7 linked regions of the Homo sapiens genome follow. The protein of the gene in region 1 purifies or fractionates together with the protein of each later gene. This does not show direct contact. Each region holds a gene or a part of one and is shown in the gene's direction. Other genes may lie near its edges.

Region 1 (3,927 bases):
TGGGGTAGGAGGATTCAGAGAGGGACACTTGGACTTGGGCTGGTAGCAAGCACTTCATAGAGAAAATGCCTACAACAGTGACTTGGAGCTGGTTTAGCCAGAGGGAGAAAGCAATGGGGGCCAGGGCACACGCTCTGAAGCAGGCTCGGAGAGGCCAGGGCACAGAGACTTTGCCTCTTGTTTCTTCAAAATGGGCAATTAGTGGGTTGCATCCTATCTGCATGGGAAGGTTATTAAAACAGTGATCCCATGGCAATGCTCTGCGTCCTGGCCCTGTCTTGGGAGAGAAACAAAGGCTGATATTTTCAGAGCTGTTAGTTTCTTCTAGTAGGCGCCAGCACTTTCTAGGGTAACCCATTTTCCAACAACCCAGGAGAATCACGCTAATCAAATATGCTCCATGGCAAAGCGGCCATAAACACCGTGAGTGGGGGGCCTCCAGCCCAGAGCCTCCCTGCCAGGCGCCTGCCTGCCTTCCGCCTCCTTCCCTCCCCGCCACCATCAACCTTGACAGGAAGGCGTGCAGAGGGGCCGCTGAATGCCACTGGGCCTTCATGGTGACATGCGAACAATTAGCAAAGTGGATAAAAGAGATTCCCGCCTCCTTAGGATCTGCACTTTTATACTGCTCAGAGATATTTGACCTTCTAGTTTATTATGATTCAAGAAAAAGTCAATACTTCTTAGTTTGCCAAGGCTGGAGGAATTTAAATGAATTATTGAATCAAGCAGTTAATCTGCCGATAACTGATTTTTTTTCCTTTCAAATCTGTAATGATGAAAAGCAGACTTAACCAAAAACAAGAAAAATATATTTTTTTCTTTTTTTTTTCTTCTTTTTTGCTTAGACATTTTAATCCCATGGGTAGGACCCGGGGCTAAAAGTTTGGTCATGATTACTAGGGCCATTCTGTCTTGCTGAGTATTTTGATGGAGATTTAATTAACACTTAAAGCAAAGTCTTCTGAGGCTGTAAAAATCTGTATTCACATTTCAGTTGTCTTTTGGTGTCCCTGTGTAATTCTCAACTTTCCATCTGTACCTTTAGTGACATGTGCTGATTATCTCATTTCCAGACTCCCAGAATGCAGTGTGATGTTGGTGATGGACGCCTGTTTCGCCTTTCACTTAAACGTGCCCTTTCCAGCTGCCCTGACCTCTTTGGTGTGTGAGCTCTGGGTGCTGCTGCCTGAGATCACTGTGGGTGTTGTAGGGTGCAGGGGACACTCAAGCAATGTGGCAGCGCCCGTTTCCAGGGGCTCAGCCTTCTTGCCCATAACTGCAACATTGTGCTAGAAAGGACTGGGCTGTGGGGAAAGGCTGCTGGTGTCTCCCCTGATGACGTGTGTCATGGAGAACCACATTCTCCCCCAAGGAAATGGCCAGCCTCTGGTCTCCCTACCTCGGCTACCCCCACCCCCATCCTGAACACTTGGAGCATGACTTTCTTCTTATGCCACGTTTCCTCCCTGCAGTGACTCCCCAGTGCCTACAGTAGTGTACCTAAATTTCTCTGCTTGGCTCTCCAAGTCTCCCAGAAATCACACCTTGACCCCCAACCCCACCACTGTACAAAACTCCTACTCACATCTAGTCTTCTACCTGAGACCTGCAAATGCCACCCACAGGGCGGCTGGGGGAGTCTTGGCTCAAGCCTGCTGTGTTTCTGGGAAAACCTTTCTCTCCTTTGCAGGGCCCACTGGCACATCACCCGCTCCATGATCTCCGCCACTCCCAGTTACTTCTTCCAAACTTAGCTCCCTGGCTCCCATGCTCTTTGCCTGATCTGCATACATGTCACCACCTTACAGAATGACAAAGTCAGAAAGAGGGAAAGGTATGACTTGTTCATCTTTGAGACCCCTAAGGTGCCTAAGACACAGCCTGGTCCAAAGTCATGACATAGTAAAGGAAAAGAAGGAAGGAAGGAAAACGTATTGCAGGCAGGGGGTGGAGGGGACCACTTTTTTAAAAAGTCATTGATTTTAATAGGCCTCTAGTCCAGGAGGCTGACTGTGAGCCTGGGAGCAGTAGTGGCAGGCTTTGTCCTTCTGTGCAAGGTGCTTCTTTGTGAGCACGGAATAGCTGGGTGTTTTCATTTTTCAACTGGAAGCAGGAAAAGTAAGCCTAAGAAAGAACCAAGAGTTGATCAAAAGCCCCCAGCTGGGTCCTAGGTTGGAAAGGTGTTGTGTTTCAGATGTTCAGAGTGAGTCAGCCATGAAACCTGAGCTCTGCAAGGCAGGACACCCTTCTTGGCACCAATGACCACCTCATGGAGGGACAGGGACTCCCTAGGAGACCCCAAGCCCCCAGGCCCCACCTTGAGTAGCTTGGCTGCACAGGCAAATGGAGTCTGTGCTTGTGAGCTACAAAGGAAGCCCTCGACCCCAGACCCTCTGAGTGTTTACAGCTGACCCTCTGTGTTTGTGTGTCTGGCAGGGCTTTCCAGCCACAACGAGCTGCTGGCCTCCTGCGGGAAGAAGTTCTGCAGCCGAGGGAGCCGGTGCGTGCTCAGCAGGAAGACAGGGGAGCCCGAATGCCAGTGCCTGGAGGCATGCAGGCCCAGCTACGTGCCTGTGTGCGGCTCTGATGGGAGGTTTTATGAAAACCACTGTAAGCTCCACCGTGCTGCTTGCCTCCTGGGAAAGAGGATCACCGTCATCCACAGCAAGGACTGTTTCCTCAAAGGTAGGAACAGGGCCCTTGCCCTGTGGTTTTGGGTTTTGTGATGGGTCTTCCAATGCCTTTTTGACAAGTGACCTGGGTGCTGAGTCTACAAGTTACATATGTTTAGGAAATAAAGACAAAGACTGGTGTGTAACAAAATAGCAGCAGTGGCATTTTGGTGATGCATACTCTGTGTCCCACCTCCAGAGACCCCTGCCCTTAGAGGAAGCTCCTTGGGGAGTAGAATCCAGGCAGGTCAAATTAAAACCTGGCTGGTACAGGTTCACTAGGGACCAGGCAACAGGGCACTACCCAGGTCTCCACATAGGACGGGCCTTTGCAAGGTTGTGACAAGGACCATGTTTACCCTTCTGCACAGAGTCCCATGAATCAGGAGGCTGTGCTGTGCATAGAATGTGGTCAGGCAGACACCAGCGCAATGTCTTCCAGCGTGACAAGGACACAAACTCTGGCCTGGGGCAGTTGTTGATGGGAAGGCATCCCATGTCTTGCCTGTCCAGAACACCTCTGAGCAAGACAAGGAAGCCCCTGCATGGACATCAGAACATGTCTGTGGAGCTGGGGCCAAGGATTCATGCTTTAGGCTGAGATTGAGTCAGAAAAGAAGGGAAGTACCAGCTCCCACTAGACGGTAAGAACCATTAGGGCAGCGGCTATGGCTGTCTTATGCGCTTATGTATTAGCACCTAGCACTGTGCCCTGCACCAAGAAAATGCTCAATGGCTCCCAGATGCTTGAAGATACAAGGGTCAGAATGCACATCCTGGGTTGATTGATGTGGCCCTGGTAAATAGTACATGCCATGGCCTGTGGAAGTATTTATTGTATACAAATATTTGTGTACAAAATGGGTATACATGAATTAGGAAGTGTGTAGAAGACAGAAGCAGCTTGCAGGCAGATGGGAACAGGCCCACATAGCCTGAGCTACGAGAGCCCACTTGGAGTTATGTGAGGTCAGGAATGTGCTTTAGGTTGCACAGGGAGGAGAGGAGGAGGCTTGGACTAGACACCTGCCAAGTGCCTGCAACACTAGAAGACAAAGGCGTGAGAGCAGTCCAGGCTGTAAAGGCCTGGGCACCAAGTGGGAAGGGGCAGAGCTCCTGCCTCACCCTCACAGAACCCCACTGAGGATGGTATGATGCTGACACACCTGAGCGGAGGCGGATTCATGGCTGAGGTGGTGGAGCAAAGGTGTGTTGGCCTCTGTTACATCTATCTGTGTCACCTGCACCCACC
Region 2 (3,927 bases), on another chromosome or scaffold:
CTCTGATAATGGCATTAATCCATTTACTTCACCTCATGGCCTAATCACCCCACCTTTTAACACTGTTGCACTGGGGATTAAATTACCAAAATGTGCTTTTGGTGGACACGTTAAAAGCACAGCAGCACTGTTACAGGAATGCTGCAAAATCTTGCCATGAATTTTATTATGTGCACATGGAATGATCTTCCTGTCGATGCTGAGTATTATAGAATTTATTTTGCTTTACACATCACCACAGCAAACAGACTTAGTTTTTTTTTTCCCCTCATCTGCCATCTCATAGGTTAAGCACATTTCTGAGGCATTTGGCATGTGAGTCTGGTATATTGTTGCTATAACTTAAAGCCTTTTCAGTAAATTGGTAAGCCTTAGGACAGCTTCAACAGAAAGAGGAGACTTGCTTTGAAATACATTTTTTGATTTTTTGCTAATTTGCTAAGCATCATGAGTTTGACTGCTGACCTTGAACTAGACCACTTTAGCTGCCTATTGGCACCCACAAGAGCGAGCAAGAAAGCACACTGAGACAAACCCCTATACTGGAAAGCCATGCAAAGCCGTGTAAGTTCTAATCCATCTCAGTGTAAGAGGTCTTACTTCTTTTCTCCTGTTCTCTTTTGGGTATTAGCTCCTTGTTATTCAAAGAATATCCTTGGGTTTGGTGATTAGTGTTCCTGATAGAGCTTTGTAAGTGCTAAGCTTTCACCAAATTTGTTTCTATTTGAAACACTTGCCTAATGGGCTAACATTGATTAGGATAAAAAATTGCATAACCATCCAGCTATATTATATAAATCTTAAGTATTTTAGGTAGAAGGAAATTACTTCAGAAAAAAAAATTCCAGTGCATTTTAGTCAAGCTAAGGTGCTTCCAACAATTTTACGTCAGTACTAAGACTAGTGAGATGTTGGAGATGATCATGTGTAATTTAATACGCTGCATCTCTGATATCTCAGAACTGTCTGCCAGGTATTTTGGGTGCAGAGATAATGTTAGAGTGCCACTGAACATTTTGTTTTCAGAAATATTTGCATATAGAGAAACAGTTATGTTAAAAGGGGTTACATTTCTTTTTAAAAGTTGCAAGTTTTTAAATGTAAAAATCATGGAAAACTTGGAAAAAATGCAATAACGTGAAGATAAAATGAAATCTCATCCCGTGAGTTAAGCTCTAGTGGTGAGTCAACTTTGAATTTCAATTATTTTTCTGGAAAATCGTTTTTCATAGTCATTGTTCAGGTATAGCAGTAGAATGTGGGAGCTCTTAAGATGAAACACGAACCAGACAAATTGACAGGCAGTAGAGAGCGTGTAATTAGAAAGACTGTAGCTTTAGTGTGTCCCAGCTAGTGATCTCTGAGGATTTTAGTCAAAGACGTAACTTCTCTGGGTGTCAGTTTCTTATCTTGAAGGCAAAGGGGATTTGGAAAATGGTGCTGTTGGTAAAGCCAAATGAAAGCTATCGAGCATGAGGATGCCTGGTCTCACCCATCCTGTCTTAACCATTTGATTTGCATTTCATCAGAGCATATGTAATATCTATGTGGTGGTTAAGGGATGGTTATTCTTGAGGTTGGCCTTGTTAACTGAAAAACCAAACTCTAAAATATTTTAGAGGTGTATTATGATCCAGTATGAGTAACTGCAGCCCCAGGAAACACAAAACCAAGAAGCCTTGAGTAAGTGTGCCCGAGGCAGGCGGATTAGTTTAGTTTTATACATTTTAGAGAGGCAGAAGTTACAAGGAGGTATAAATCAATATATAGGGCTTTTACATTGGTTTGGCCCAAAAAGACAGGCTATTTTGAAGTGGGGGCTCACAGGTATAGGCGGGTTAAGAGATTCTGTATTTTATTTTATTTATTTTGAGACAGGGTCTCTCTCTGTCACACAGGCTGGAGTGCAGTGGCACAATTGCCACTCACTGCAGCCTTGACCTCCCTGGCTTTAGAGATTTTTTACTTTGTAATTGGTTAAAGGAGTAAATCTTTGTGTAAAACTTTGGAGTCAGCAGAAAGGAATCTAAGTTATGACAAGGAAGTCTGTTCACCAATACACTGGGTCAGAATGACTTGGAGGGATGTGACTTAGCTCCTGTCTGGCACGACCCTAGGTCCTGTTTATGATCTCTGTTTTAATATTAACGTTGGTCAGTTGTGTCTAAATTCCAAAAGAGAAAGTATAGTGAGGCATGTCCAATCTCCTTTCACATCACTGCTGGGAACTCAGCTTTTCAGGTTTCTCTGGGGTTCCGTTTGGCCAAGAGGGGGCCCACTCAGTTGGGGGACTTAGGATATTTATTTATTTATGAGACAGAGTCTCGCTCTGTCACCCAGGCTGGAGTGCAGTGGTGTGATCTCAACTCACTGTAACCTCCACCTCCTAGGTTCAAGTGATTCTTGTGCTTCAGCCACCATAGTAGCTGGGATTACAGGCGTGTAGCTAATTTTTGTATTTTTAGTAGAGACGGGGTTTCACCATGCTGCGCAGGCTAGTCTTGAACGCCTGGCGTCAAATGATCCAGCCACCTTGGCTTCCCAAAGTGTTGGGTACAGGCATGAGCCACTGCACCCAACCCAAATTTCATTTTTAGTTTATAGCCTCCCCTTACTTCTCCTCTGCCATTTTTGATCTTTTTCATCCAGATGGCTTCTTTTTTTTTTTTTTTTTTTTTTTTGAGATGGAGTCTTCTCTGTCACCCAGGCTGGAGTGCAGTGGTACGATCCACTGCAACTTCCGCCTCCTGGGTTCAAGTGAGTCTTCTGCCTTAGCCTCCCAACTAGCTGGGATTACAGGAGTGTGCCACCACGCCCAGCTAATTTTTTGTATTTTTAGTAGAGACAGGGTTTCACCATGTTGGCCCGACTGGTCTTGAACTCCTGATCTCAAGTGATCCACCTGTCTCGGCCTCCCAAAGTGCTGGGATTACAGGCATGAGCTACCACTCCACTCAAATCCAGGTGGCTTTACTCTCTCACCGTGGTGAATACTTCATCGTGTGTGAGATTTCATTTATTTTAAACAGGAGTTTCATGGAGAATTACATGTTTTAAAACCATAGACCTAGGAGTTTGTATACCTTTTATTTTAGGTAGAAAGGATTGCTGTCTTCCTATTAATACTTTCCGTTTGAAACAGAAGGGTGAAATGAATGAGAATTTTGGTGAAGAGAAGGCAGAGTGGAGAACAGGATACAGCAGGCTAGAGAATTGAGTTGTGCATGGCACGTCTGTTTTCTGAGCCTATTCTTTTCACTCCCACCGCCTATAACCTTCCCCCAGATGAAATTCCCTTTATCCTCCTCCAGTTACACCATTTAATTTGAATAAAATACCTGTGTTCAACTTAAAAGTATTTTTCAAGCGCAGTTGACTTTTCACCTTTGCAGGGGTCTAGGTTTTGTTATTACTGAGTTACCGTCAAGACCCCTCACAGCTGCCTCATCGTGCTCTGTGGCTGGGAGTGTATACCACACTGGGTTCACATCACCATTCAGAAATTAACCACACAGTGGACTTAGGCGTTTAGGGCTTTAGTCTACAAACAGCATGTATTGCTTATTAATTTGTTCTCATAAACAATTTAAAAGATATTTGTTTTTCCTGCAGTTTTTGAATCTAACTTAAATATTAAGTTTTTTTTTCTTGGTAGTTCACCAAATCTCTGCATTTTGCTAATCGTTTTTTCTATAAAGTAATTTTTAAAGTTCTCAGCAGTAATATTAAAGCCACGTGAGCTATGTCCAGCATCCCATTTGTTATAAAACAAGAACCTTTGACTAATGGGAAATTCTCAGTCAGCAAAGACATTTTGAAATTTGTAACTATGATTTTTCTGTATTCTTCCAAGACTGGTAGTTTGAAATTTTAGGCTGCTTAGGAGTTTACAGATAGTATGACCTCTTTGTTCTGCAGTAAGAGTCA
Region 3 (3,927 bases), on another chromosome or scaffold:
CCCCAGCTTTGCCGGAGGATCAGGTGCCTGCGTTCCTGGCTGAGGGACAATCCCAGGCCCTGCCTTGGGGGGTTCTTGCTGAGCCGTGGGCAGTGGACCCTGCCGGGGCTGACCTTCCATTACCCTCTGAGGAGAGGGGTGTCTCAGCAGGAGACAGAGCCCGCCTGCTTCCAGCCTTCTCACTAATCCTGGGAGAGTGGGTCTATTAACCAGAGATTTGCCACACTCATTTCCGTTTCAGAGCATTAGGTAGGCAGTGAGATGGCACCAGAGGCTCCTCAGGAGATAGCCTCTTGTCTGGGGTGGAGGCTGGAGGTGCTGAGACAGCCTCGTGTCTGGGGTGGAGGCTGGGGGTGCTGAGACAGGCTCGTGTCTGGGGTGGAGGCTGGGGGTGCTGAGACAGGCTCGTGTCTGGGGTGGAGGCTGGGGGTGCTGAGACAGGCTCGTGTCGGGGTGGAGGCTGGGGGTGCTGAGACAGGCTCGTGTCTGGGGTGGAGGCTGCAGGTGCTGAGACAGGCTCGTGTCTGGGGTGGAGGCTGCAGGTGCTGAGACAGGCTCGTTGTGTCGGGTGGAGGCTGGGGGTGCTGAGACAGGCTCGTGTCTGGGATGGAGGCTGGGGGTGCTGAGACAGGCTCGTTGTGTCTGGGGTGGAGGCTGGGGGTGCTGAGACAGGCTCGTGTCTGGGGTGGAGGCTGGGGGTGCTGAGACAGGCTCGTGTCTGGGGTGGAGTCTGGGGGCCCTGAGACAGCTTAGTTTCTGTGGTGGAGGCTGGGGGCCCTGAGACAGGCTCATTGTGTCTGGGGTGGAGGCTGGGGGCACTGAGACAGCCACACGTCTGGGGTGGAGGCTAGGGGTGCTGAGACAGCCTCACGTCTGGGGTGGAGGCTGGGGGTGCTGAGACAGCCTCATGTCTGGGGTGGAGGCTGGGGGCCCTGAGACAGTTTCGTGTCTGGGGTGGAGGCTGGGGGCACTGAGACAGGCTCATTGTGTCTGGGGTGGAGGCTGGGGGTGCTGAGACAGCCTCACGTCTGGGGTGGAGGCTGGGGGTGCTGAGACAGCCTCACGTCTGGGGTGGAGGCTGGGGGTGCTGAGACAGCCTCATGTCTGGGGTGGAGGCTGGGGGTGCTGAGACAGCCTTGTGTCTGGGGTGGAGGCTGGGGGTGCTGAGACAGGCTCGTTGTGTCTGGATTGGAGGCTGGGGGTGCTGAGACAGGCTTGTTGTGTCTAGGGTGGAGGCTGGGGGTGCTGAGACACCCTCATGTCTGGGGTGGAGGCTGGGGGCACTGAGACAGCCTCGTTGTGTCTGGGGTGGAGGCTGGGGGTGCTGAGACAGCCTCATGTCTGGGGTGGAGGCTGGGGGCCCTGAGACAGTTTCGTGTCTGGGGTGGAGGCTGGGGGTGCTGAGACAGCCTCGTTGTGTCTGGGGTGGAGGCTGGGGGTGCTGAGACAGGCTCGTGTCTGGGGTGGAGGCTGGGGGCACTGAGACAGGCTCGTTGTGTCTGGGGTGGAGGCTGCGGGTGCTGAGACGGCCTCGTTGTGTCAGGGCTCGACGGGTCATTAACGTCAGGGTGGGAGGGCAGGAGGCAGTAGGGGGATTGCTGAGCCGGAGTGGCCACTGCAGGGGAGGACGGTTGGGAGCAGCCTGCGAGCACCTCGTGTCCAGGCTCCTGCAGGAAGGTGGGGAGCTGCGGGAAGGTGGGGAGCTGCAGGAAGGTCGGGAGCTGCCAGCATGGCAGGGGCAGGCAGTATCCAGGCTCCTCAGAGCAGCTTGGCAGATTCCTTTGGGCATTCTGCTGCCTGGGAGCTGCCTCAGCACAGTCCTGCCTCTGACCACCACTTGGGACCCCAGCCCGCATTGTGCCAGGCCCGAGACTGGGCTCAGCAGGTTCGGTCCCATGCACTGGGCCCTGGACAGAGGCTCAGGGGCAGCTTTTCCTGCAGAGTTTGTTGGCAGTGCCCTTAGAAGGGATGTTGCTGCCTCTGGTCCCTCCTGAGCTCTGGATCAGCCCCTTACAGTTGTCCGCATGCCCAGAGGGGCTGTGTTAGGGGCGCTCGGAGCCACCAGTGCCAGCAGCTGGCAGTATGAGGGGGTCTGTCGTGAGGAGCGCTCCGGGCAATGCTGCAGCACTGTAGCTGCAGCTCACGTCGCCTCCGGGGCCCATGTTGTCTCCTGGGGGCCTGGGTAGACCTGACTCACACCTGTCCTCCTTGAAGGCCAGCTCTGGGCCACACCGTGAGCCTGACTGTGGGTGGACACCCAGGCTCCCTGGGCCCCTCACAGAGTGGCTGGGGGCACCTTTTGGCCCTCAGGTCTGGTGTGGCCCTGGAGGAAGGCCATCCCACCACCATCCTGGGGAGCTGTGGGTACCTGCAGACAGCATAGAGCCCACAGGCTGGGAACCAGGCAGGAGACCCCCAGGTAGGGTCAGCTTCCCCAGGCATCTGGGCAGGGCTTACTCTGCTCACTTTGCTCTGGTGTTTCAGGGGCGGGGGCAGCACCCTCCTTGACCACCACCTCTAAGTGGCGCACAGTGTGTGACAGCCTCTGGTACCCATAGAGTTGTGGACACAGCTGCAGAGGCGTGAGGACGGGCTGCCCAAAGACACTGCTCCCCACTGAGGACTGTACCTGCATTGCAGCCGGCAGAACTAACACCAGATGATGTGGGCCAGAGTTACCCAGGAATTGACGGGGGCTTGGCTTGGAAAATGACAGTCCCACTTGGGCCATGTCAGGGAAACAGGAGCTGCCACTATGCAGCAGTTGCACATGCCAGGCCCTGGTCCTGGCACCATTGGGAGCACCAGGGCCTCTGGGTACTGGCTGAGGAACCGTCACCTCGTCCTGACCTAACCCGGTTCTCACTGAGCCCCACAGAGGCTTGTGCTGGAGTGGGGCGGGACCTGGGGCCACCAGGGGCCGGCTCTTGCCCCACTCTCAGTCCTCCTGTCATCCCCTAAGGGGTGGGTCTCCTCCCCAGATGGGGCTGCTCCCAGGGGCCTGCAGCGTGAGAGTGACAGTCTCCTACGTGCGGTAACAGCCAGAGCCTGCCCAGTGTGGACGTATCACCCTGAAACCCAGCTTTGCAGCAGCATGTGCTCCAGGCCAGTTTCTGCAGAGGCCACCTGCAGGGTAGACTCATGGGCACCAGCGTGTGCACACGGCCGGCCTGGGGTCCTGACGGCTGCTCCTAGGCCGTGCTAGGAGGGAGGCTAGTGCCATCCCTTGGGGAACACTGCCAGCCTGCTCTGAGATGCTCCTGCCCCCTCCACCTCCAGGGGCCAGAGGAGGCCTAACTGCTGCTCCCTGTCTCCTGCCCTGCCCGGTGCCCTGCCCTCTCCTTCCCTGAGCTACACCAGGCAGGTGGGGCCCTTGGAGTGCCCTGCGGCCACCCTCGGATCAGTGTCCTGGGCCTGCTGGGGGCCTTTTCTTACCTGGTGTGTCCTTTTTTTTTTTTTTTTTTTTTTTTTTTTTGAGACAGAGTCATGCTCTTCAGCCCAGGCTGGAGTGCAGTGGTGCGATCTCAGCTCACTGCAACCTCCACCTCCTGGGTTCAAGTAATTCTCCTGCCTCAGCCTCCTGAGTAGCTCGGATTACAGGAACCTGCCACCACACCCTGCTAATCTTTGTGTTTTTAGTAGAGGCGGGGTTTCGCCATGTTGGCCAAGCCGATCTGGCCTCGGGTGACTGCCCACCTCGGCCTCCCAAGGTGCTGGGATTACCGGCGTGAGCCACCGTGCCCAGCTTTTTTTTTTTTTAATCTGCCATGTCTTTAGGTGTCTAAAGTGTGATGTACACACGTGGGGCTGTCTCTGGTTGTTGGAGCCCCTCTTTCTGGGGATTCCTGGGGTACTGCACAGGCCCCCACTCTAGGGGGCCCACTGGGGCATGAGACAGTGTTGTTGGGGCTACATCCAGAGATGGAT
Region 4 (4,705 bases), on another chromosome or scaffold:
GATAGGCCATGTGGCCCTTCAAGGGTGGACCGGGCCTGGGGGGGCTGCTATCTTATGCTTGGTGGGCATGGAAAGCAGTTGCTGCGCACAGGTGTGAAGCCGCAGGTCCCTTTCCACAGCAGGTCCCTTTCCACAGCAGGTCCCTTTCCACTGGGCACCCTGGTACCTGCAGTGATGGGGGTGGGGGGAGGTGCACTCCTAGAGCAGACGGGGGTGGGTGGGGCAGTCTCCAAGCTCCGAAATGCACCTCCACCAGACCTTGAGCCTCAGGGTGATGTCACTTGATGTGCTGGGCAAGGTCCTGGCTCCAGGCTTTCGATGGGGTGGGTGCTCTGAACAGATCCTTACAATGAAACTACCTTCAGTGGTCACTGTCATCGCCTTCCAGTTCTTCAGACCCTCACCCTTGTCCCAGCTTTCCTGGGCTGGGGGCTGGGCTCCACCTGCCTTTGCCGGTGACTTCCGTCCCTGCAGACTCACAATTTTCAAAGCCCTCTCCCCGCCTCCTCTGGTAGTCACAACCCAGTTATTCAGACTTGCACAGGTCGTTCGCAAGTCCTCCTGGAAGGTATCTTGGCTGGAAAAGGGGACAAGGCCAAGCTTCCCCACCGCTGGATGCTGCGCTCGGCTCTGGAACTGACACCAGGCGTCTCGGGCAGGGCCACTGACCCGCAGCACACAGAAGCCAGCTTTGCCATCGCAGCGGGGACCGCCGGGCGGGCCAGCTCCGCCCTCTCCTGCCTGGGGGGCCCTCGGCACCCTCTGGCTCCCCTTCTCTGGCCTGAGTCTCTAGGGCCTCCCCAGTCCGGGCGGGGGTCTCCGCTGTCCCCCCCACTGGGTCAGGCACGTGGTGGCCGCGGTGACCACCTGGGGAAGGCGCCGACTCCGAGGAACACACTCGAGCAGGACGCTCCGCAGGTGATTCTGCCCCGCGGGCACGGGGTGGGGGCGGGATTTGGCCAAATCTGCAGAGAGTTTAGGTTGTCAAAGCTGGGGCGGGGGTTGCTACTGATACCCAGAGTGCGGGGGCCAGGGTGCTGCCAACATCCCACCATGCGCAGGACGTCCCCACCCCAAGAACCACCCGGCCCCGCGTATCCGGAGCGAGGAGTGGGCAGCGCTCGGCAGAGGCCCCGGCGCGGCGGCTGCACGTCCTCCGGGAGGAGGGAGGGAAGCCGGGCTCACCGCCGGGCCTCCCCCCCGGTCAGGAGGGAGCCGGGAACTCCCGAGGCACCAACTCTGCGGAACGCGGGGCGCCCGGATCGCCCCTGATCACCGCCCGCTGGCGAGGCGCGGGGGACCCAGAACCGGCGGGGCCGGGAGCCTCCTTTACCGCTCCGCGCCGGGGCTGCCCGCAGGATGGGGCGCAGGATGGGGCGCAGGATGCGGCCCCGGCACCGCCTCGCGGGGGTCTGCGGGGGGCGACCGCGGCTCGCGTCGGCCACTACTTGGGGGTCTCGGGTTTCCGCCCCGCCCTCGCCTTGCAACCCCTCCGGCCCCGGACTCCGCTTTCCAGGCCGGGCTCTTCCCTCCGGACCCCGCTCGCCGCCCGGCGCGGCCCCCTCCTCCTGCAGCGCCCCCCGCCCCGGCGCCCGCGCCCCCGATTCGCTGCTGACTCGGTGTCTGCGCGTCCGGCCGGGCGCCCCGGGAGGAGTTTCCGGCGCGGGGCGGGGTCGGGGGCGGGGTCGGGGGCGGGGCGGGGCGGCGGGTGGGCCCCACCCCCCAGCTGAGCCCGGCCGGGCGGACTCGGACTCGCCAACTTCAGAGGCTCGGCGGCGGCGGCGGGCGCGGAGCTCTGCGCGCGGCTCCAGCGGGCCGGGATGGGCGGGCGGCCGCGCGGAGGACGCGGGGGGCGCGCGACGTGACCACCCGGACTCGAAGCCCGCCCCGCCCCCGCCCGGCTCGCCGGCTCCGGGGTCTGCTCCGGGGGTCGCGGACGCGGGGCCGGGCGGCGGAGCCGGCGCCAGAGCATGCGGGGCGCGGCGCGGGCGGCCTGGGGGCGCGCGGGGCAGCCGTGGCCGCGACCCCCCGCCCCGGGCCCGCCCCCGCCGCCGCTCCCGCTGCTGCTCCTGCTCCTGGCCGGGCTGCTGGGCGGCGCGGGCGCGCAGTACTCCAGCGACCGGTGCAGCTGGAAGGGGAGGTGAGTGTGCGCGGCGCGACCCCGGCCCGGCCCCCTCCCCTCGCGTCCCCTCCCGTCCCGGGCCGGCCGAGCGTGCGGGGGCGCGGCCGGGGGCGGGCGCGGGGCAGGGGCTCCGGGGGCCGCTCTCCAGGCCCAGTCCGGTGCCCGCTGTCCCCCGCCCCCGGTTCTAGAACAAAAGAGCCCGCGGCGTCCCGGTTCCCGGCCCGGAGGACGCCCGGGGGAGGCGCGCCTGCAGCGCGGCCGGGTGGGTCCCGGCTCCGCGCGTGTCCGAGCCTCGGGGGCCGCCGGTCCCGCGACCCCATCCCGGGGGCAGGCGGGGGTCGGTCCTCGGGCCCTTCCTGGCAGGCTCCGGGAGTTGCGCGCCCCGAGGCCGCCCCGGGCCAGAGCGGGAAGGGACGGCCGCGGGAGGGAGCGGCGGTTTCGGGGATCGGGCGCGGACCGCAGCGGGGGCCACTTCCGTCTCGGGGAGCCGCGGGCGGGCACCTGTGAGCCGGGCCGAGTGTGGCTCCGGCCGGGCCCCCCGCCCCTGCCCCGTGAAGGTCAGGCCGCCCTTGGCCGCGGCGCGCGCTGCGCTGGGCGACCCCCCCCCCCCCCACCCGCGGTGGCGGCCGAGGACTTTTTTTTTTTTTTTTTTTTTTTGACTCAAGCGTGGCCGCCGAGAGCGGCGCCGACCGCGACTGCCCCTCGGGAGCCGCCGCCGCTCCCACGCGAAGCCCAGGGCGCCGAGGGCACCGCGGCCGAACCCGCCCTGCGCGAGCCTCGCAGTCGCCAGTTCCGGGGTTCGCAGATGCGCGGGGACCCGAGTGACGCGCGCCTCCCGGAGAGCCGTGGCCGGGCTGGCCCGGGCCTGGGTCCCGCTTCCCCTCGGCGCGGCCCCCGCCCCCGCCCCCGCCCCCGCCGCGGGCCGAGTCACGCGGTGATGTCGAGCGAAGCTGTTTTCCGAGAAGGTCGGGGCAGAGCCGGTGCGGGGCGGGTGGTGTCCGCGGGGCGGGCGCAGGTCTCCCCGCAGCCGCAGCCTCCGTTCCGGGTCCCCGCGAAGCCACAGTCGCCCCCCAGCGCCCCCGGCGGAGCCTCCCCGGGGGAAGGGGCGTGGCGCTGGGGGGCAGAGTCGCCCCGAGGGCCGTGGGCGGTGCCCGGCTGTCCCGGGAGCGGCCGCCTCCCTTCTCGGCCGAGCGGGGCCGCGGGCGGATGGAGGTCTGGGGGGGGTCGGCCGGGAACGCCGGCGCCGGGAGCCTCCGAGGCCGACGGCTCTTCTGGGGCCGCCCCTGCCCCCGCGGAGTGATTCAGCCCCGGCTCGCTGCCTCTGCCCGGCGGGTCGGTGCATCCCCGAACCGAGGCCCGGGGCGTTCCGCTCCAGCAGACCGAAGCCAGAAACGCCGCCCCCGCCACCCAGGCCGAGTGTGTCGAGAAGGGGCCGGCGCCCTTTTCAGGGTGTCAGGGGACTGTGTGCCCGGTAGGAGGGGGCGCCTCCCGGAGCCCGAAGGGAGGGCGCGGTAGGCAGCCGAGGGTGGCGGGGAGGCCACCCCTCCACCTCCAGGGGCGGGCGGCTCCTCCAGGCAGGTGACAGCAGCGGGACAGGAGTGCTTTGCCCTCCAGGACCTGCGCACCCTCCTGTCTACCTGGAGGCCCTCTTCGCCATCGTTGCCAGTCCTGGCCTCAGACTCCCCAGAGGGGACCCCCCCACACACACACACAGGGGACCCCCCCCAACACACACACACCTGCAGAGCCTGGCAGAGGGCAGCTGTGGGGGCTGCTGGAGCTGCGGGTGTGATCTGGAGGGGACACGGGGCCCGGCTGTGTTTCTGGGGCGTAAGTGAGACTTCCTTTTGTTGTGGTCACTGCCCCGTTGATCCACACACGTCACGAATCAGTGACAGAGACTCGCTGTGGAAACCGGAGTGCGCTGGCCTGCCTGCTACCCTCCGGTGTTTGTGACTTTTTACCAGCTGTCCTGACGAAGCACAGGGTGGAGCGAGCGCTGGTGTGCTGGGTGGATTCTCATCCCCCGATAGCTGGAAAGTTGCCCCTCATGACACTGGCCACTGCATCGACGGCCTCTGTTGCTGGGTGTTTCTTCTAAGCAGTTAAGTAGGAGATGATGAAACCTCCCTTCCGTGGGGGGAGGCGGGACCAGCGCCCCGTCTTTATCAGCCAGTGCTCATAAATGTGGACCATGAACTTTCCCACTTGCTGTCAGCCCGGGCATCGCAGGTGCGGTCACACCTGGTTCGTCTCTCCTGCAAGGTGGGGAAAGGAAAGTTAACCTGCCAGTGGGTTCGAAGCCCTTCCTGACTTTCATACAGGAGCCGGGCATTTTGTCCTGGTGACCCAGAGTTGTGGTGTGTGGGCTGGTGCCTCAACAACCCTCCAGTGCACCTGCGCCCCCCTTCAGTGAGTCCCTTTATCCACTTGGGATTTGCCCTCCTTTCCATGAAGGTGCCCCACAAGCATGTCCACCTGGGTGGTAACCCTTGCTGACTTTTAAAAGTGTATCTGTTCAGTCTGTTGATCCAACATCAGATCAGCCTTGTCAGTTTCCTAAAGTTGAACGAACCACGGTTT
Region 5 (3,927 bases), on another chromosome or scaffold:
AGGTAACAGAACTGGCGCTCAAGCCCATGTGTGCCTGGCCTGGGCTCTTTCCTTAACTTGTAGTCCCTAGGGCGGGGGCAGAGTGTGTGTATCAGACCACCCATCTCAGATGTCCCAGGCATTCTGGCTGTGAATTATGTCCACATTGGGCTGGTTTTCTCAGATATGTTGGGGTAAGAGGGGCTGGATCACCCCTCACTGCTTCCGGGCCCTTTATCCTCCATCTCACCTTGGTGGAGCCCCTGCCTCGAGGCAGGCCCTGGACAGCAAAGGAAGACAGGAGCAGGCTGGTGCAGCCTCTAGACCTCTGACCTTCTTCTTCGGGTATCTAGGGTGCCAAAGCATCTCCTCAACCAAGACCCACTCCTGGCTGCCCGCCAGGGCCTGGGGCACTGGGCCTGCCCGTAAGCTCACCTTTCCAGCCTTTACCTCCCCAACTCCTGCTCCCGGCAGTCACGCCAACACCACCTTAATTTTAGATGTGACATTTCTAGTGAGGGGAAAAGCATTTGTTCCCAGCACTGCAGTGTCAGGGAAAGGCTGGGTGTGGGCAGCGGCCCCCGGGGGTAAGAGCTTTCATGCCCCTCCCTGAGGGGACACTTTCCCAGCTGGGATGTTTAGCGGAGGCCCAGCAGAGTGGCAGGTGCCAGAGGGAAAGAACCCCTCACCCCTATCCTGAGGGGAGAGAGCCCAGCTCCCGCCTCAGAGGTGCTGAGAGGCAAAGGGTCCAGGTGAGAGTCAAGGAGACACCTTGGGCCATCCTGGATGACCACTGCTGTCCTGGCCATTCAAACCCAAGCTCTCAGCCCTGTCCCCCAACCCCACTCCCTTCCCACTGAATCCGCGATCCCTCTCCTGTGTCACAGACTCTCTTCCACCTTCTCTTGTCTCTCTGACTCCTTCCAGCAGTATTTAGTTGTTGTTGTTGCCGTTGCTGCTGTTGTTGTTGTTGTTAGACAGAGCCTCACTCTGTCACTCAGGCTGGAGTGCAGTGGCGCAATCTCGGCTCACTGCAATCTCTACCTCGCAGGTTCAAGCAATTCTTATGCCTCAGCATCCTGAGTAGCTGGGAGTACAGGCGTGCACCACCATGCCCAGCTAATTTTCATATTTTTAGTAAAGACAGGGATCTCACCATGTTGGCCAGGCTGGTCTTGAACTCCTGACCTCAAGTGATCCGCCCACCTTGGCCTCCCAAAATGCTGGGATTACAGACCTGAGCCACCAAGCCCGGCCCCCAGCAGTATTGAAAACACACTTAAATTGTCTCTCTTCAAAAAAAAATTTTTTTTAACATGGGGTCCACTGTGTTGCCCAGGCTGGTCTTGAACTCCTGACCTCAACATCATAAAGCAAGACCCTCCAGCTCAGGCTGTAATGGCATTTATTCCCACCACCCCCTCACCCCCCACCACCTCCCACTACTTCACCCTCAGCCCCTGCATCCTGGCCTCTGCCCTGCATGTGCTAGTGAGCTTGCTTGTGGCCTGGTCATTATACTGGTGAGGATACTGGTTCAGCAGCTTGAACAGAGACCAAGTGACTCCAACAAGAAGGAAGGTGTGTTTCTCTCCTGTGGAAGTCTGCAGTGCAGGCCACTCTGGTGATTGGGTGGCTCTGCTCCATGGAGTGACCCAGGGATCCACGTTGCTTCCATCTTGATGTTCAGCCATCCCCCACAGTGTTGCCTGCCTGAGTTGCAGTCTAGACTGGCTCACCCCACTGAGTTGTCCTTCCAGCAGCTAGGGGATAGGGAATGGTGGAGCCAGGGCAGGCAGCTTCCTTGTAAAAGGCGACCTAGAACCTGCCCACATCACTCCTCACATTTCCATTGGCCAGAACTTAATCATATGGCCTCCCTCAACTGCAGGGACTGCTGGGGAATAGAGTCTATTTTGCTCCCAGTCCATTGGCCAGAGTGGTGTCATGTGACCTCTACCAGTTGCAAAGGAGGCTGGGGAATGTAGTCTCTGGCTGGGAGTCCATTTGCCCTGCTAAAACCAAGAAGGAGTGTGTGGTTCTGTTACTAAAAGGAAGAAGGACAGAATGTATATCGGACGCCAATTAACAGTTTTGGTCATGAATCACCCTGAAGTCTCAGGAATGCTTTCTGCTGGACGGCCAGAAAACCTAAGTAAAGCTGTTAGTGGTGGAAGGTATCCAAGTTACCAGCAGCTAATCCGTACGGGTCTGCAGCAACCCCAGTTCTTGCCTCCTCGGAAGAAAGAATTCGACTGAGGGGCATAAGGCAGAAAAAGAGACTGAGGCATGTTTCAGAGCAGAAGTGGAAGTTTATTTAAAAAGGCTTTAAAATGAGAAAGAAAGGAAAATATGCTTGAAAGAGTCCCAAGTGGGCACGTGAAGGTCAAGTGCTGTATTGATCCTTGATCCTAGGACTTTATAGGCTGGTCCCCTTTCCCATGATTCTTCCCTTAGGCTGGGCTACCCGCACTCACAGTGCCCTCCTTACCCTTGGGAGGTGAGCACACGCACTGTGTTTAGGAAGTTGCACACATGCCCATCTGACGCTTTCTTCCCTTTTCCAGTGGAGTGTCCCTGGAAGGTCAAACTCCGCCATTTTGTCTCTTAATGCACCTGCTCGGGAAGTCACGTCTCCCTGGCACCTGCATTCAATTAACATGTTAGTGCAACAGGTGTGGACCATCAGGAAATGCCCTCTCCCTAGTGCTGGCTGCCAATTTCTCACTTCTAGAGAGGCAATGTGATAATTGCCAAACCATCACCCAACATTCCTAGTGGGTGGGGGAAGAGCCCTCCCCTGCCCCACTCATGCTTGTCTAACTACCTGTAACAAAGCGACTTGAGTCTTAAGAACATTTACTTAACAAGATGGGGATAGTTTGGGACTGGTTCTGCAGTACCTTGATATCTGTGATTCTCATGTCCTTACCCTTGTGGTCACGATATGGCTGCCATAGCTCCAGCCATCATGTTACCAGACACCACATTCAAGGCAGTAAAAGGAAGAGAGGGGGCTTTCTATACCCATAGTCTATTCTGTTGGATAAACTTAGACACACTAAAATGTTAGCATTTATTTGAACAAACAGTGATTCCTGAATCAGGAAGTACTAGACTGTGAGCAGTTCATGGCTCCACTAAGGGAATATGAGAGGGAAACGTCTATAAGGTGCTCCTGAAAGCAAGACAAAGAAAACATTTGCCTACAGTGAACAGTCCCTAGTTAGAGGTTGGTTGGCAGTTTCCGATGGGTCAAGCTTAAGTTCTCTTTTCCTGTTTCCACCAAGTTAGATTTGGGTTTGCTGACAGAGGAACTCGAGGCCTGGAGCCGGCTCAGCCTGATGGCCTCCCAGTTCATTACTTAACAATGCCCCTCCAGCTGCCAGACAGAGAGAACCAATATCTGACAGGAGGGAGTAAGCGTGCCACATTTGGCTTAGATCAACTGTGATTCGTCCCTTGAGGCTGGGCATGGTGCACCCTGAACAGAGGGAAGGTTCTGCGAGTGAAAAAGGGGTGCTGACTTGGCAGCCTTCAGCCTGCCCCCACCGGCTGCCCTGTCTGGTGCGAGGCCGTACCCTCCAGAGCTCCTGGCTCCTCTCAGTGCGGTGCTGTTGCCCACTCCCTCCTTCATCCTGCAGCTGGCACTCCCCCTGTGCTCCCCCCACCCTCTGGCTGCTCCTTCTCCATCCTCTCTGCTTACATATGCACAGCCTCCACCCACACTCCTAGTCCACGCTCCCCCTGATCCCCTCTCACCTCTGCTGTGCACCTGATGCCAGCCCCACTCCTCACCTCCCACAGTCATCCCCTGCCCTGTCTTGCTTGGCCTTGCTCATAGGTCTGACTGCTGCTCGGTCCCAGCATCCCAGGCCTCATCTGAGGCTCAGCCAGGGTCCCCAGGACTGCAAGTTCATCAGTGAAAGGCAGTTTGACTCTAGATCA
Region 6 (3,927 bases), on another chromosome or scaffold:
TCTGCCCAATACTCTTTGGGCCTCCCTGTTGTCCAGCTCTCTCCGCGGCTCCATGACTGACAACTTGAGCAAGGCTAATGTGAATGGGAGCGGTTGAGGGCTCAGACCTCTCACCCGAGGAACATCCACAGAGTGTGCCGCATGCCCGGTGCAGTGTGGCTGCGGGGACACAGACACGGAGCCTCGGCCCTGAGGAGCTGGGGGGCAGTGACCGTCCCTCCTCTGACCCACCACTCCTCCAGTGTCAGGACACTGCGGGTATCTAGGGGAAGGAATCTTGTTCCACTTCAAGTCTGGAACTTCAAGTCTGTGTGTGTGCGTGCGCGCGCGCGCGTTGGGGGTGGGGGTTGCAGAGCAGATGCGTACCTGACAGCGGTAACCTAGGTCCCCCCTGGCCTATCAAGGCTTCCCTGGCGGCCGAATTTAAAGGCATCAAGCAAACAAAGCCCAACACATCTCTGCCTTGTCCTCTCAGTTTCCCCCCGTGGCACTTAGAACCACTTGATACACCGAATAGTTTCCTATCTCCCCCACTAGGATGTAAACTCCACAGGGGCATTGGGAATGCTGCCTGGCTATGGTAGGGACAGAGGGGAGCACCAGGGCGGGGCAGGGGTGCCAGAGTTCTGCCTGGGCAGTCAGATTTTCCTTAGGAGGGGACATTTGAGTGGGACCCAAACAGGTGTATAGCAGTTGTCCAGCCCAGCTGGCAAGGCCTGAGTCTGCCTCTGCAACCCCTCTCTTGGGCTCCTTTCTCTGCCACCCACCTCCTCACCTTTCCAGGTCATCACAGTTGGGGCCACCAATGCCCAAGACCAGCCGGTGACCCTGGGGACTTTGGGGACCAACTTTGGCCGCTGTGTGGACCTCTTTGCCCCAGGGGAGGACATCATTGGTGCCTCCAGCGACTGCAGCACCTGCTTTGTGTCACAGAGTGGGACATCACAGGCTGCTGCCCACGTGGCTGGTAAGTCACCACCCCACTGCCTCGGCCACCGTGATGCTAACAGCCCCTTTGGCAGTCAGGGTCTGTGCCGGGACCTCCAGTGCCAGGCTCTGTGCAGGGGGACCAGAGATGAAGTAGGCCTGATGGTGCCTTCAAGGACACTCAGTCTGATGAGGGAGGCGAGTGCACAGAGGAAACACGAGGTCAGGGCTGTATTAGAGGGAGCCCAGAGGAGGCACCTGCCCAGCCCGAGGGTCAGAGAAGGCATCTTGGAGGAGGGACATTTGATCGGGAGCTTGATGGATGAATAGGAGTTCACCTGGCCGATAAGACAGCAACTACCAAGGCTTAGAGGTGTGAGAGGAGGCTGTCTTACCTCACTGAGTAAGGACTGCAGGCGGCTTACCTTCGAGAAGAGAGCTTAGTGTCTGTGTGCACGTGTGTTTGTGTGTATGTGTGTGCGTGTGTGCACTGGCAGGAGTCCCCTGCTGGGGCAGGAGGGCCGGGCCATCACCATCTTTCACCATTCACCCCTGCACCAGGCATTGCAGCCATGATGCTGTCTGCCGAGCCGGAGCTCACCCTGGCCGAGTTGAGGCAGAGACTGATCCACTTCTCTGCCAAAGATGTCATCAATGAGGCCTGGTTCCCTGAGGACCAGCGGGTACTGACCCCCAACCTGGTGGCCGCCCTGCCCCCCAGCACCCATGGGGCAGGTAAGCAGGATGGCAGGGTGGGCAAGTCCAGGCTGGGGCTTGGGAGGTCTGTGTGACCTTGACAGTCTCTCCCTTCTCCCTTGTCTGTGTAAGGAGGATGACGCCACCTTAAATAGGATTAAATGAGAATGGGGCTCTGAAAGGGCTGTGCAATATTTTCATAACGTGTTTTTATAGAGACAGTTGAGTATGTTCTTTAAGCCCTCCTCTCTCCTACCATGAACTAAAGATTTCTGTGGAGGTCCCCTCACTCCCAGCACCCCCTCCTCATCCCAGGCCCTTTTTGCAGGTTGGCAGCTGTTTTGCAGGACTGTATGGTCAGCACACTCGGGGCCTACACGGATGGCCACAGCCGTCGCCCGCTGCGCCCCAGATGAGGAGCTGCTGAGCTGCTCCAGTTTCTCCAGGAGTGGGAAGCGGCGGGGCGAGCGCATGGAGGTGACTGTACCCCTCCTTCGTGTGTGTGTGTGTGTGTGTGTGTGTGTGTGTGTGTGTGTGTGTGTGTGTGTCAGTGCTGGGCCCTCAGGGACCCCCAGCAAGCCCCTCCATCCTCCAGACTCCAGCTCTTCTGTAAGCTTACAGGGCTGGCCAGACCAGGAGTGGGGCACTCCTCACTTCACGCGGCTGGGGGCTGCTGGAGAGAGCCACAGCGGGAAGGGTTTCCTAGAGGCTGCAGGACAGTGCTGGATGGATTTTCAATGCTCACCTGGGTGTGAGCGTGCGGCAGGGCCGCGTGAGGGTCAGCGATCTGCTACTCTGGACTCAGCCATCTCTAGGCCCCTCTCACTCAGGTGCTCCATGGTTCTGGGAGCTGAGAAATCTCAAACCAGCAAAAAAGTGGAATTGATGTTGATGCTACAGGATAGTGCACAGATGCCATCTGGTTGCAGCATTTTGGTGGAAGGGCAGTGCCCAGCTAGGAGAGTGAGGAGGGGCAGGCATTTCTGGCTTGAGGAGATGGGGTCTTAATGCTCGTGTGAGAGGCAGAGTGGGTGGAGTGGAGCTGGCTGGATCCTTGCTTTGGCCTCCTGGATTTCTCTCTATCTCCATTTTGAAACCACTCTGTGTTTGGAAGAACTTTTGAGTATTCAGAGCTGCCCACTGGCAGAACAGTCTTCCTTGGGCAGGAGTGAGCTCCTTGTCCCCAGAAGGCTGGGTCTGGCTGGCCCCTGGCAGGGACACTGATGAGGGTGCTTGAGTTGATCCTGTCTAGTCCCTTTCTGTGTTTTCAAAGCCCATTCTAAAGCAGATTCCCATTTCCGTCTTTGACTCTAAGGCCCAAGGGGGCAAGCTGGTCTGCCGGGCCCACAACGCTTTTGGGGGTGAGGGTGTCTACGCCATTGCCAGGTGCTGCCTGCTACCCCAGGCCAACTGCAGCGTCCACACAGCTCCACCAGCTGAGGCCAGCATGGGGACCCGTGTCCACTGCCACCAACAGGGCCACGTCCTCACAGGTAGGAGGCTGGGCTTGCCCTGGGGTGAGGAGGGGTCTCTTTCTCCTTATGCACCCACTGCCCGCGAGGCTTGGTCCTCACAAGTGTGATCCATGAGACTCAAGCCTGACTTGCAGTTCCATACTCTGGTTCTGCCACTTCCATGCCCTTTGAGCCTGGGCAGGTGACCTTACTTCTCCTCATCTCAGCTTCCTCCTCCATAAGAGGGAAAAAGGTATTACCTGCCTCATTGTGTTGCAAGGAGATGGGCAGCATCTAGGGCACTGGCCTGGAGTATCGCAGGTGCTTTGCCTAAGGTGGTGCAGTCCAGGAGAGGCAGCTCCAGAGAGAGGCCCCCGGCTGGGGCTGAAAGGAGGGCAGACCTCGGTTTGAATTTCACCCTGCCGCTCTATAGCTGTGTGACTTGGGCAAATTACTTAACATCTCTGTATGAGGAAATGATGAGTGCTAAGCACTTAGCTTAGTGCCGGGACAATATAAATTCTAGCTATCGTTACTATTGTTTTCATCACCCGTTGCTTTAAAATCCAGCCTCTGGTATAGGCAACTATTGACGGGCTACCCTGTGTCGAAAACATGCCCAGGCAGGTAGCAGGAAGTCACAGATGGGGACCTCTTGGGGCATCAAGGGATGGTGCCCTGAGGCTGAGCTGTTCTGGTTGGGTGGAGCATGAGAGGTCTGGGAAGACAGTGGGACTCCAGCCTGGAATAAGAGGCTCAGAGTTGATTCTCGTCTGAGCACGTCCAGGGGAACCACTGAGGGTTTGGGAACAGGAGAGTGAGGGTGAGAACCTGGTTCTGGGCACAGCAG
Region 7 (3,927 bases), on another chromosome or scaffold:
AGGTGGACTCCCTGAGGTCAGGTCCCTCTTGGCCCAGGTGAGGATCAGATGGTCTCCTTGAGATCAGGTCCCTCATGGCTCAGGTGAGGATCAGGTGGTCTCTCTGAGGTTGGGACCCTCTTGGCTCAGGTGTGGATCAGGTGGTCTCTCTGAAGTTGGGACCCTCTTGGCCCAGGTGAGGATCAGGTGGTCTCCCCGGGTCAGGTCCCTCTTGGCCCAGGTGAGGATCATGTGGTCTCCCTGAGATTGAGACCCTCTTGGCCCAGGTGAGGATCAGGTGGTGTCCCTGAGATTGGGACCTTCTTGGCTCAGGTGTGGATCAGGTGGTCTCCCTGAGGTCAGGTCCCTCTTGGCCAGGTGAGGATCAGGTGGTCTCCCTGAGATTGGGACCCTCTTCGCCCAGGTGAGGATCAGGTGGCCTCCCTGAGATTGGGACCCTCTTGGCCCAGGTGAGGATCATGTGGTCTGCCTGAGATTGAGACCCTCTTGGCCCAGGTGAGGATCAGGTGGTCTCCCTGAGATCGGGACCCTCTTGGCTCAGGGGAGGATCAGGTGGTCTCCCTGAGGTCGGGACCCTCTTGGCCCAGGTGAGGATCAGGTGGCCTCCCTGAGATCGGGACCCTCTTGGCCCAGGTGAGGATCATGTGGTCTGCCTGAGATTGAGACCCTCTTGGCCCAGGTGAGGATCAGGTGGTCTCCCTGAGATCGGGACCCTCTTGGCTCAGGGGAGGATCAGGTGGTCTCCCTGAGGTCGGGACCCTCTTGGCTCAGGGGAGGATCAGGTGGTCTCCCTGAGATCGGGACCCTCTTGGCTCAGGGGAGGATCAGGTGGTCTCCCTGAGGTTGGGACCCTCTTGGCCCAGGTGAGGATCAGGTGGCCTCCCCGAGGTCGGGACCCTCTTGGCTCAGGAGAGGATGAGTGTGGTTTTTCTCAGTTGGGAGCCCCTTCAGAACGTGCACTCCCATCTTTTCTCATGGCGCTGCCTCTCTTCAGATCTCTGTTGAGGAGCTGGCGCGGAATCTGGTCATCAAGGTCAACAGGGATGCTGTCATGAAAATCGCGGTGGCCGGGGACTTGTTCCAACCGGAGCGAGGACTGTATCATCTGAACCTGACCGTGGGAGGTATTCCCTTCCATGAGAAGGACCTCGTGCAGCCTGTGAGTACTGTACCTGTCCCTGTGTAGACGCGCCGTGTGCTGGGATCCCGGGAACGGTGTCAGGAAGCCTCAGTCACACCCTGCCCTGTGTTTACCATTAACCAGGTGTGAGGAGGACCTAGAGGAAGGAAAGGTTTCCTAGAGTTTGACAAAGTCGCCGTACAGCTATGTCATTAATTTTACCATCTCTTTTTATGAGACCTAAGTTTTCATCTGAATTGATAATAAAGTTGTCTATTTTTCAATGGAGATAAGACACAATTAAATTATTATTATTTTTTTTGAGACGGAGTCTTGCTCTGTTGCCCAGGCTGGAGTGCAGTGGCGCGATCTCGGCTCACTGCAAGCTCCGCCTCCCGGGTTCACGCCATTCTCCTGCCTCAGCCTCCCAGGCAGCTGGGACTACAGGCGCCCGCCACCACGTCCGGCTAATTTTTTTGTATTTTTAGTAGAGACGGGGTTTCGCCGTGGTCTCGATCTTCTGACCTCGTGAACTGCCCACCTCGGCCTCCCAAAGTGCTGGGATTACAGGCGTGAGCCACCGCGCCCGGCCGAAATTATTCTTTAACAGAACAGTAAACTTTTTTGGACAATTTCCAAGAACATTTTGGGTTTTGTAACTCTGCCGTGAGTCTCATAAGGGGAAAACAGCCATGATGGGCGGTCAGTGTGGGCCATTGCTCCAGGTCCCGCCTTCTCTCCCCTTCAGCACAGCACACGCCCGTGCCCCCGACCTGTGTCTCCAGCCCCCACGTGCTGACGTCTAAGCCGTCATCCTGGGTATTTTCACTTCCACACCAGGCAGGAGAAAGGCACGCATGTCTTCGCGTCTTTGGGTGCTGAGTGTCGGCAGTGCCTGTGCTGAAGCCACCCCTTCAGTGTTGTGAGGGGCACCTGCTCCCCAGGCCCACAGACTGCCTGGTGCCGGGACCTTCGGTGTTGTGAGGGGCACCTGCTTCCCAGGCCCACAGACAGCCTGGTGCCGGGACTTTGCCTGGCTGGACCCTCCTCGTTTCACAGATAAGGGGGTTGCCCTGATTTGCCCACAGCCATATTGAATATTGAATAATTCACATGAGTGTTGGATGGTTGAACAATCCATACTCTTTGACCTTAGACCCACATGGCCTTTTCAGTCCTTTCCTAGCTTTAAAATGAACCTTTAGTTCTTGAGCATACACCAGTGGAAATAGGTATTCTGCAGTGAGGCGTTGTGTAAAGTGAAGAAACCTTCTGTGAAATGGCCACCACCGATGGGACTGGCCCGTTTCTGCCGTAGAGCTGCACATACCAGGGCCGCGAAGGCGCCACCCACCGACTGGGGCATCCGGCATGGGGCTTCTCGCTCCCAGGAAGCCACGGAGATTTCTCTGCCTTTCCAGATAAACCCTCGTCTGGATGGCTGCATGAGGAGCTGGAACTGGCTGAACGGAGAAGACACCACCATCCAGGAAACGGTGAAAGTGAACACGAGGATGCAGTGCTTCTCGGTGACGGAGAGAGGCTCTTTCTACCCCGGGAGCGGCTTCGCCTTCTACAGCCTGGACTACAGTAAGTCTTGGCTCTTACCGTTGGGGTGGCTGTGGCTGCACCTTCAGACAGGCATACGCTGAAAGCAAGCAGACGGCCTCAGATGGCAGCGTCAGGACAAGCTGAGGCTCCTCCGGTTCCGGGGCAGGGATGGGTGGGCGGGGTGGGCGGAGGTGCGGGCAGAGGCCCACCTCTCAGGATGGCCATGCAGGTCACTCAGTTCAGAGTCAGCCAGTGAAGAAGAAATGAGAGAGATGTGCCGAGAAGGTGCCTGCGAAGCCAGTGCCAGGAGGCCGGGGAGAGAAGGTGCCTGCGAGGCCGGCGCCAGGAGGCGGGGGAGAGAAGGTGCCTGCGAGGCCGGCGCCAGGAGGCCGGGGAGAGAAGGTGCCTGCGAGGCCGGCGCCGGGAGGCCGGGGAGAGAAGGTGCCTGCGAGGCCAGCGCCGGGAGGCCGGGGAGAGAAGGTGCCTGCGAGGCCGGCGCCGGGAGGCCGGGGAGAGAAGGTGCCTGCGAGGCCGGCGCCGGGAGGCCGGGGAGAGAAGGTGCCTGCGAGGCCGGCGCCGGGAGGCTGGGGAGAGAAGGTGCCTGCGAGGCCAGCGCCGGGAGGCCGGGGAGAGAAGGTGCCTGCGAGGCCGGGGAGGCTGGGAGCCTTACAGGGTCCTTTGCAGAAAGTCCGGAGACAGCACAGCCTTAGGACTCGTCCAGGGGCACAGAGAAGCTCTCGGTAACATGGTGGACACCGTGGTCACCGATGACCCGGTGAGACAGCTACAATGGGAGGTGTGTAAAAACAGCCGTGAAGCTGCCTGGGGGACAGTGAACCTAGGCCTGAAAAAGGGAGGACAGGGTGGATGTGAGCTGCTGGCCCAGTCCTGTGACGCCACGCTGCCGCCCTCCCCAGTGCAGGCTCCGGGGGTGCTGCTGTGAGGATAGTGTTACTGCTCGGCCCCACCCTGCCTCACATTCCCACCCCACGTGGGCCCCACTGGGGCACCACAGCCCTGCCCTATTCCTGGACACCGAGCCGTTTATGGTGAAGCCCCCACACGCACAGAGGGCAGGCAGCGCCCCCTCCGTCAGATCTCAGGGCTGCCGGCCCTCAAGCACCCAGCAGGAACCCCAGGTTCAAGGGGATCCACGCGGAGCAAAGGGGAGGGTCCTGCCCCGTCCTGAGCCAGATCCAGTGTCACCGTCTCCCCCCGGGTGTCAAAAGCGTGACCGTGTCAGGAAAGGCATCTGA

What was found.
Region 2: the proteins of FSTL4 (region 1) and UXS1 purify together in Homo sapiens (affinity purification with mass spectrometry; one large-scale study listed by BioGRID and IntAct). This does not show direct contact.
Region 3: the proteins of FSTL4 (region 1) and CHID1 purify together in Homo sapiens (affinity purification with mass spectrometry; one large-scale study listed by BioGRID and IntAct). This does not show direct contact.
Region 4: the proteins of FSTL4 (region 1) and METRNL purify together in Homo sapiens (affinity purification with mass spectrometry; one large-scale study listed by BioGRID and IntAct). This does not show direct contact.
Region 5: the proteins of FSTL4 (region 1) and MAN2B2 purify together in Homo sapiens (affinity purification with mass spectrometry; one large-scale study listed by BioGRID and IntAct). This does not show direct contact.
Region 6: the proteins of FSTL4 (region 1) and PCSK9 purify together in Homo sapiens (affinity purification with mass spectrometry; one large-scale study listed by BioGRID and IntAct). This does not show direct contact.
Region 7: the proteins of FSTL4 (region 1) and GAS6 purify together in Homo sapiens (affinity purification with mass spectrometry; one large-scale study listed by BioGRID and IntAct). This does not show direct contact.

What each region holds. Positions count from the first base shown.
Region 1 is NC_000005.10:133,399,499-133,403,425, reverse strand, and holds part of FSTL4 (follistatin-related protein 4 precursor), read left to right. Parts: intron 1-2,439; coding exon 2,440-2,688; intron 2,689-3,927.
Region 2 is NC_000002.12:106,145,527-106,149,453, reverse strand, and holds part of UXS1 (UDP-glucuronic acid decarboxylase 1), read left to right. Parts: intron 1-3,927. UniProt on the Homo sapiens protein: Catalyzes the NAD-dependent decarboxylation of UDP-glucuronic acid to UDP-xylose. Necessary for the biosynthesis of the core tetrasaccharide in glycosaminoglycan biosynthesis.
Region 3 is NC_000011.10:893,670-897,596, reverse strand, and holds part of CHID1 (chitinase domain-containing protein 1 isoform a precursor), read left to right. Parts: intron 1-3,927.
Region 4 is NC_000017.11:83,077,846-83,082,550, forward strand, and holds the start of METRNL (meteorin-like protein isoform 1 precursor), read left to right. Parts: upstream 1-1,763; 5' UTR 1,764-1,970; coding exon 1,971-2,140; intron 2,141-3,300; exon of another isoform or gene 3,301-3,593; intron 3,594-4,089; exon of another isoform or gene 4,090-4,226; intron 4,227-4,705. UniProt on the Homo sapiens protein: Hormone induced following exercise or cold exposure that promotes energy expenditure. Induced either in the skeletal muscle after exercise or in adipose tissue following cold exposure and is present in the circulation.
Region 5 is NC_000004.12:6,581,404-6,585,330, forward strand, and holds part of MAN2B2 (epididymis-specific alpha-mannosidase isoform 1 precursor), read left to right. Parts: intron 1-3,927.
Region 6 is NC_000001.11:55,056,548-55,060,474, forward strand, and holds part of PCSK9 (proprotein convertase subtilisin/kexin type 9 isoform 1 preproprotein), read left to right. Parts: exon of another isoform or gene 1-258; intron 259-783; coding exon 784-967; intron 968-1,488; coding exon 1,489-1,662; intron 1,663-1,951; coding exon 1,952-2,100; intron 2,101-2,896; coding exon of another isoform or gene 2,897-2,938; coding exon 2,939-3,116; intron 3,117-3,927.
Region 7 is NC_000013.11:113,825,779-113,829,705, reverse strand, and holds part of GAS6 (growth arrest-specific protein 6 precursor), read left to right. Parts: intron 1-994; coding exon 995-1,159; intron 1,160-2,541; coding exon 2,542-2,710; intron 2,711-3,927. UniProt on the Homo sapiens protein: Ligand for tyrosine-protein kinase receptors AXL, TYRO3 and MER whose signaling is implicated in cell growth and survival, cell adhesion and cell migration.